Linked DNA regions of Homo sapiens. The protein of the gene in region 2 interacts with the protein of the main gene of each other region in a biochemical or structural test. Each region holds a gene or a part of one and is shown on either strand. Other genes may lie near its edges.

Region 1 (4,133 bases), about 16 Mb from region 2:
ATTGAGTTTACTAAACATCGTAAGACTACACACAAAACTTAACTGTATTTCTGTGTACAACAATAGAAAAGAAAAAATATTTAAAATATATTATTAAAATCACTAAAACCACCAAAACAAGATATACAAGGTTTTTAAACTAAAAATGTCAAAACATAGCAATTAAGTTAAAGAAATTCTAGTTACATGAAGCGATACATGATGAACATTGATTAGAGATTCAGTAGTAAGTTGCCAGTTCTGCATAAGTTGATTGATAGACTCAATGTGGTCCCAGTAGAAACCTCATCAGGATTTTGTAGAAATTGAGAAGCTGTTTCTAATATTTATATGGAAATCTTGACTTTAAGAAGAACAAAGCTGGACTATAGTTACAACTATAAATGTACAATAATTAAGATAGTGTACTGTTTGACACAAGCATCAACAAATAGACTAGAATAGACAGCCCAGAAACAGACACACACACATACAGTTACCTAACTTACAAAAATGCACCACCCTAGTTCAGTGGAGGAAAAATGGTCTTTCCTACATAGTGCTGTCTCAAGTGGATATCTATTCTACCAGGAATAGATAGAATGTTTATTAATAAAACTATTAGAAAAAAATGGAAAAATATCTTCATGATTTCAAAATCATGAAAAATCTCTTCATGGTTTCAAAATCATGAAAAATATCTTATGATTTTGGGATGGGCAAAAATTTCTTAAACATGACACAAAAAGCACTAATTTTGAAAGAAAATATGAATAAATAAGACTTTCTCAAAATTAGGAAATTTTGTTCATCAAAATTCAACATTAGGAGCAAGTCAAAAACTAGCAAAATATTTGTAATACACATTAAAAAGGACATATTCAGAATGTAAAAATAACTTAAAAATCAGTAAGAAAAATATTGGCTAACTAATTTAAACAAAATACAAAAATGTGAACGGGTACTTCACAAAAGAAGATACCCAAGTGCCCAATAAGCATATAAAAAAGTGTTCAACCTTATTACATGTTGGGGAAATACAGATTAAAACCATGGGGAAATATCACTTTACATCCACAGGAATAATGAAAATCAAGAGAACTGAAAACATTGACTTTTTACAAGCACATAGAGCATCTAGGACTGCCACACATTGCCGGTAGGAGCATAAATTCATACAATCACTTAGGAAAACTGGTAATATCTACTAAAGCTGAATACATGCTTTCCTCATCCTCTACCAGTTCCACTCCTGGATAGGTAGTGAAATTAGTGCACCATGTCCACCAAAAGACAAGTCCAGGAATGTTCGTGGGTTCTCTTCCTCATGGCCAAAAATTGGAAGCCACTTAAGTGCCTATTAACAATAGAATGGATGAACTGAGGAATATTAATATAAGGGAACCCTACATGGCAATGAAAAGGATGAAACTTTTGTACACATGACATGAATGAATCTCACAGACTTAATTCTGAGTAAACAAGACATACAACATTACACACAATATGATTCCAACTATACAATGTTTATAAACAGACGAAATTACTGTGCAGTCATGGAGGTCAGAATAGTATTTTCCTAGGAGTTAGTACTAGGAGGAGTTATAACGGGGCTTCTAGGGAGTCAAAAATGTCCCATATCTTAATCTAGAAAGTGAGTATATAGGTATGTATGTGTGTGAGAATTTGTGAAGCTGTTTGCTTGAGATTTGTTATTTATGTTCTTTACATGGTTTAATATCTCATTAGAAAGAAAACAGAGTTCATAGAGAAAGTTACAAAATAGATTTTCTTAATACCTGAAACTTGGTAAAAAGCTGTGGTATTAAACTGTGGTGATGTCATTAGGGGAGCCCTCTACCCAAACAGAAAGGAAGGCTCAACAGAGCACAGGTGTTTGTTGTAAATGGAAAAATAAATCCGTCTTATTTTCATACTGCAGCAAGTTAACACTATCGAAAGCATTACAGATTAATTAAACTAGATAATTAATGTAGGATGCAAAAGATAGGGCCTCATAGTATATATTAAAAATATTATATAATTAGCATGACTACTACTGCTGCTGCTAACTACTACTACTACTATTATTGCTTTGTTGGTGCTGTTAGTGATCATTTTTAGTGATTGCCCACAAAAGGAACAATACTGGATATGAGGAAATTGATATAATTTATCTTTTCAAGCATACTGTGGGCCTGTGGGTTGCAGTAAAAAGACAAGGAGGGCCTGAGTGATATGACCCTTCAGATAGGGAACTCACAGACGGCCAGATGGGAGGTGGAGCAGGGGACGTCATTCCACTGGCCATTTTTCAGTAGCAATACACAATCTTCATCAGAACCAGCATTGTTGGGTTCACCCTCGTTCCAGTTTGTGTAGGTCAGTCTATTTCCTGTCAGATCCACAAACTGCCCTTCTGTCTTCTCATCAGTGATGCCCAGGAAGGCTTCCTCCTTGATGAGATTCTGAATGGCTCCATTCTCTGCAGCATTCCTGGGGGTGGCCACAGAGGCCTGGAACTTGACACACAAGGCCTTCACTTTTTCAAAGGTCATTATTTCACCATTGGTCAGGAAGAACTTGTTCCCAACTTGTTTGCCCAGAGAGAAGGTGAGCCCTAAAATGTGAAAAAGTGGGTGAAACTGACTCATCCTTAAGCCCAACTCAAGGTATTTCTCAAGAAAAAGTCTTCTAGAGTACAGTTGCCGGATAAAATATAGTATGTCCAGTTAAATTTGAATTTCAGACAAACAATGAATATTTTAGTATATCTCCCATATAATTTTTCAGACACACTTATACTAAAAATGTTTTTCAGCTGAAATCCAATTTAACTGGTGCTTTGTCTTTTTATTTGTTAAATATGGCAACCCAAATGTGAACAGACAGACTGGTACAAAGGCCTCTCTGTGCTTTCAGATCAGAATTCTAAAAGACATATAATTTGGACTTCTGAATTCTAAATTGTTAACTTGAGACCAAACAAAAAATGTCTGAAAATATTTGCCCCAGGCAGGTTAGACCCCACGGCCAGGTCTCAATACCAGTGCAACAAAGGGATATAAGTCCCATTTTCAGTGAGCAATATCAGACGGTAAAGGATTAGGGTCTCTCGAGTCAGACTGACTTCCATCTATAAACCACCCCTGCCATTTATTAGCTCTGTGCATTTGAACAAGTAATTTAACTTCCCTTTGCCTCCATTTCTACCAAAATGTTGTGAGAATTTCATGAGGTAAGAATATGAGAAATGCCTAGCAGGGTACAGAAAATTATATGCATTCAACAAATATTTGTTGCATTCTATTTTTCCCAAACTTCAAGCTGCCTGGAGAGTAAGAGAAAAAGCTTACACTTTTTGATACGTGCCATTTCTGTTTGCAGAGCTTTTCTTTCTGAGGCAGCCAGGCTACTATCACCATCTAGAAAATTAGAACAAAGTAAAGAAGCATTGTTGAGAAGGAGCCTCAGAACTGTGCATATACAAGGGAGTGGAGTATCTTTTTCAAACTGAAAAAAAAAGCTTATTTTACATTGATGTTTACACTTTGAAGGAAAATAAAAAATACTGAAAAGCCCAAAGAATGAAAAATCGCTATTTCCATCCAACCCCAAATGTCCCTCTTTGTCTGTTTACTGTATCCCAAAGTACGCATACATATCACATGCACACATATACTCCCTGATTACCTAGCAATCCATATGCCAGGTTCTTCACAGATTTTTTTTTCAAATAAATTGTTCTATCAAAACTAAAAAGAAATCTCTTGAGGCGTTACTCTATTATGACCTGGTGAAGAGTGACGAAAAAGATTGCAGAGTTTTTGTCTTTGGAGAGGTTTTGCTTTTGATGTCTTTTGTTTTGTTTTTGTTTTTTCCAGGTTTGTTCTGTTAGTCAGGAAACCAAGATTTTTGTGAGTTGCCCATTATCCAAGTGGGGAGGGCATGAGCAAATCACTTGTTGTAGTAGATGGCAAAAATGGCCTCAATAGGGTACAGCTCCTCGCATTAAGACATGAGTCTATTACCCCACTCCTTGAATCTGGGCTGGCCTTGTGACTTGTTTTGACCAATACAGTCTGACAGAAATGATAATGTGCTCTGAGTCTTCAAGAAGCCTAAAGCCTATCTTATTTCTACTCTTGGGAATC
Region 2 (3,600 bases):
GGGTGGAGTGTAGGAACAGAAGTCCAGCCACAGAGGGGGTGAGGAAAGGAGGGGGCAGGCATGGGTGGCCCTTTCAGGAGGTGTTATTGTGAAGAGGAGCAGAGAAGGGCAACCACTGGAGAAGACGCAGAGTCAAAGGAGAGATGTTGCCTAAACATAGGAGATACTAAAGTCCACCCCTATACTGATGGGAAGAAGACACTGAGTTCAGAGAGATAACTGCAGAATGGAAGTCCTGGAGAAGATGCATGGGAAAAGGATACCAGCCACAAAGAGAGGTGGCCTTGGAAGCTGCAACAGCCAGGGTCCAATCAGGAAACTTCTCCAGATATTTAACACAGAGGGAATTCCTCATACAGGTGATGGAGGAGAAGTGAAGCTAAATGGGGGATAGCGAGGTAACCCAGAGATTAGCAATAGCAAGAAAATATTTCCTTCGGCCAGGCACAGTGGCTCATGCCTGTAATCCCAGCACTTTGGGAGGACGAGGCAGGCAGATCATTTGGGGTCAGAAGTTCAAGACCAGCCTGGTCAACATGGCAAAACCCCGTCTCTACCAAAAATACAAAAATTAGCTGGGCATAGTGGCACACCCTGGAGGCTGAGGCAGGAGAATCACTTGAACCCGGGAGGCAGAGGTGGCAGTGAGCTGAGATCGCACCACTGCACTCCAGCCTGGGCAACAAGAGTGAGACTCTGTAAAAAAAAAAAAAAAAAGAAAGAAAGAAAGAAAAAAATACTTCCCTCCTTGGGCTACAGCGATAGTGGAAGGAGGTTGTCTATTTCCTGAGCCCAGGGACTAGAGGCATCTGGTGGGAGCTGAGGCCATGGGCAAAACAGAGTCCTGCCCAAGGTGCCATCCCAGGCAGGGAGTAAGGAGAAGAAACATACCTCTCTCCCTTCCTCCCAAGCTCTCAGTCTCCCGTCCTTGCCTCCCATTGGCCAAAGTCAGCCACAGCCCTGGGAGCCTGAGAAATGCAGACGCCAGGGGTCAGTTCCACCGCCACCCCCACCCCACAGCCAATACAGAGCAGGGCCAGGGAAGGACAGGAGGATCTGAGGGCAAAAGGGTTTGGGATCAGCACAGAAGCAAGGACCATTCTTTCGCAATGACGGGAAAGAAAGCACAGGGTCAGGGTGAGAAGCAGTTACTGGCTTTGGGGAAGGAAAATAGAGATTTGAGAAGAGGAGGAATGGTGTGCAAGAGTTCTTTTGGAGAATTTGAGCTATTCTCTTAACATTTTATTTTATTTTTTAATTTTAGTTTTAATTGTATTTATTTATTTTAAATGTGTTTATTTATTTTGAGACAAGGTTTTAGTCTGTCACCCTGGCTGGAGTGCAGTGCCACACCATGGCTCACTTCAGCCTTGACCTCTCAGGATCAAGCAATCCTCCCACCTCAGCCTTTCGAGTAGCTGGACCACAGGCATGCATGGCTAGTTTTTGTGTCTTTCTATAGAGACGAGGTTTCTCCATGCTTGGCTAATTTTTGTATTTTTCTGTAGAGACAGGATTTCTCCATGTTACCCAGGCAGGTCTCAAAGCAATCTGCCTGCCTTGGCCTCCCAGTCTGCCTGCCTCGGCCTCTCAATAGCTGGGATTACAGGCGTGCCACCATGCCCAGCTAATTTTTGTATTTTTAGTAGAAATGGGTTTCCGCCATGTTGGCCAGGCTGATCTTGAACTCCTGACCTCAAGCTATCCGCCTCGGCCTCCCAAAGTGTTGGGATTACAGGCGTGAGGCACAGCGCCGGGCCACTAATTTTTAGAGATGGGGTCTTGCCGTGTTGCCCAGGCTGGTCTCAAATTCTTGGCCTCAAGTGATTCTCCCACCTCAGTCTCCCAAACTGGGGGGATTACAGGCATGAGCCACTGCAGCCTAACATTTTAGATTTAAATGAATTACTATTGAAACCAATGATTTAAAGTAATGAAGGATGCTGTAATATTACATTCAAACTTAATGCTGAGGCTTTAAAGTAAGAATGCAAGAGTAGGACTACAAAGTTGCATATTGAAGATTGTAATGATGTCATCACTAATGCAGTGAATACCAGTGATGGAGAAAGTCACCAGTGATGGAGAAAGTCACCAGCGCTGGGAATGGTGGCTCATGACTGTAATTCCGGCACTTTGGGAGGCTGAGGTGGGAGGACTGCTTGAGTTTAGGAGTACATGACCAGCCTGGGAAATGTACAGAGACCCCTGTCTCTACAAAAAAAAATTTTTTTAATTAGATGGGCATGGTGCTGTGTGCCTGTGGTCCCGCTACTTGGGAGGCTGAGGCAGGAAGATCACTTGAGGAGTTCGAGGCTGCAGTGAGCTATGATCACACCACTGCACTCCATCCTGGGTGACAGAGGAGACCCTGTCTCAAAAAAAAAAAAAAACAAAAGAGAAAGTTGCCAGGATCCCAAAGTGATGTGAAATGTACCTGGTTTGGAGCATGATGATTAACCCTGGCTTTGAGGAGAGTGATTTTCTAGGTTTGAGCCTGGAGATTAAAACTTTTATGATAATCCTTTTCTTAATATGTATATTTTGCTACATCCTACATAGCTTTAGTATTCATTGAATTAATGGTTTCTAATATAATTCAATTTTTTGTTACTTATGAATTTATATCAGGTCTTTTTTGCAAGTTTAAAGCAAGTTTTATGTGATCAAAAGAAGAGATTTGATTTTTGTTTTACAAGTCTTGGCTAATTATTCTTCCTTTCCCTAATTTTTTTTTTCTTTTTTTGAGACAGAGTCTTACTCTGTTGCCTAGGCTGGAGTGCAATGGCATAAATAGGGTTCACTGCAGGCTCAACATAGGCTCAAGAGATTCTCCTACCTCAGCCTCCCGAGTAGCTGGGACCACAGGTGCACATCACTATGCCTAGCTAATTTTTGTATTTTTTGTAGAGACAGGGTCTTGCTGTATGGCCCAGGCTGGTCCCAAACCTCCTGGGCTCAAGGGATCCTCCCACCTCAGCCTCCCAAGGTGCTGGGATTACAGGCATGAGCCTCTGCACCTGGCCATTTTTAAAAATAATTACCAACTACTTGAAGAACATTTTTTTAATATAAAAAATGTATTTGAAATAGAGATAGGGTCTCACTATGTTGCCCAGGCTGGCCTCAAACTCCTGGGCTCAAACAATCCTCCCGCCTCGGCCTCCCAAAGTGCTGGGATTACAGGCATGAGCCACCACACCTGGCAGAAGAACATTTTAATCACCTCCTCCAAAAAAAACCCTCATACCCATTAGCAGTCACTCCTTATTCCTCCCTTTCCCCAGCCCCTGTAACCCACTAATCTACTTTCTGCCTCTAGGGATTTGCCTATTCTGGACATTTCATCTAAATGGAATCATACAATATGTGGCTTTTGGTGTCTGGCCTTCCTTCACTCTGCATAATGTTTCCAAGGTTTATCTATGTTGTAGCATGTATCAGTACTTCATTCTTTTTATGACCCAATAATATTCCTTTGTATGCTTATACCACATTTTGCTTATCCATTCAGTTAATTATTGGATTTTTATATATAGTGTGTTCTGTTTACACAAATAAAACAATGTTCAATCATTTTCAATACCTGTTGATGAAAAG

Evidence for each region.
Region 1: the proteins of SRGN (region 2) and MBL2 form a complex in vitro, tested with the Homo sapiens proteins (one study listed by IntAct).

Annotation. Positions count from the first base shown.
Region 1 is NC_000010.11:52,765,912-52,770,044, forward strand, and holds part of MBL2 (mannose-binding protein C precursor), read right to left. Parts: intron 3,405-4,133; coding exon 3,336-3,404; intron 2,600-3,335; coding exon 2,226-2,599; 3' UTR 1-2,225. UniProt on the Homo sapiens protein: Calcium-dependent lectin involved in innate immune defense. Binds mannose, fucose and N-acetylglucosamine on different microorganisms and activates the lectin complement pathway.
Region 2 is NC_000010.11:69,098,103-69,101,702, reverse strand, and holds part of SRGN (serglycin isoform 1 precursor), read right to left. Parts: intron 1-3,600. UniProt on the Homo sapiens protein: Plays a role in formation of mast cell secretory granules and mediates storage of various compounds in secretory vesicles. Required for storage of some proteases in both connective tissue and mucosal mast cells and for storage of granzyme B in T-lymphocytes.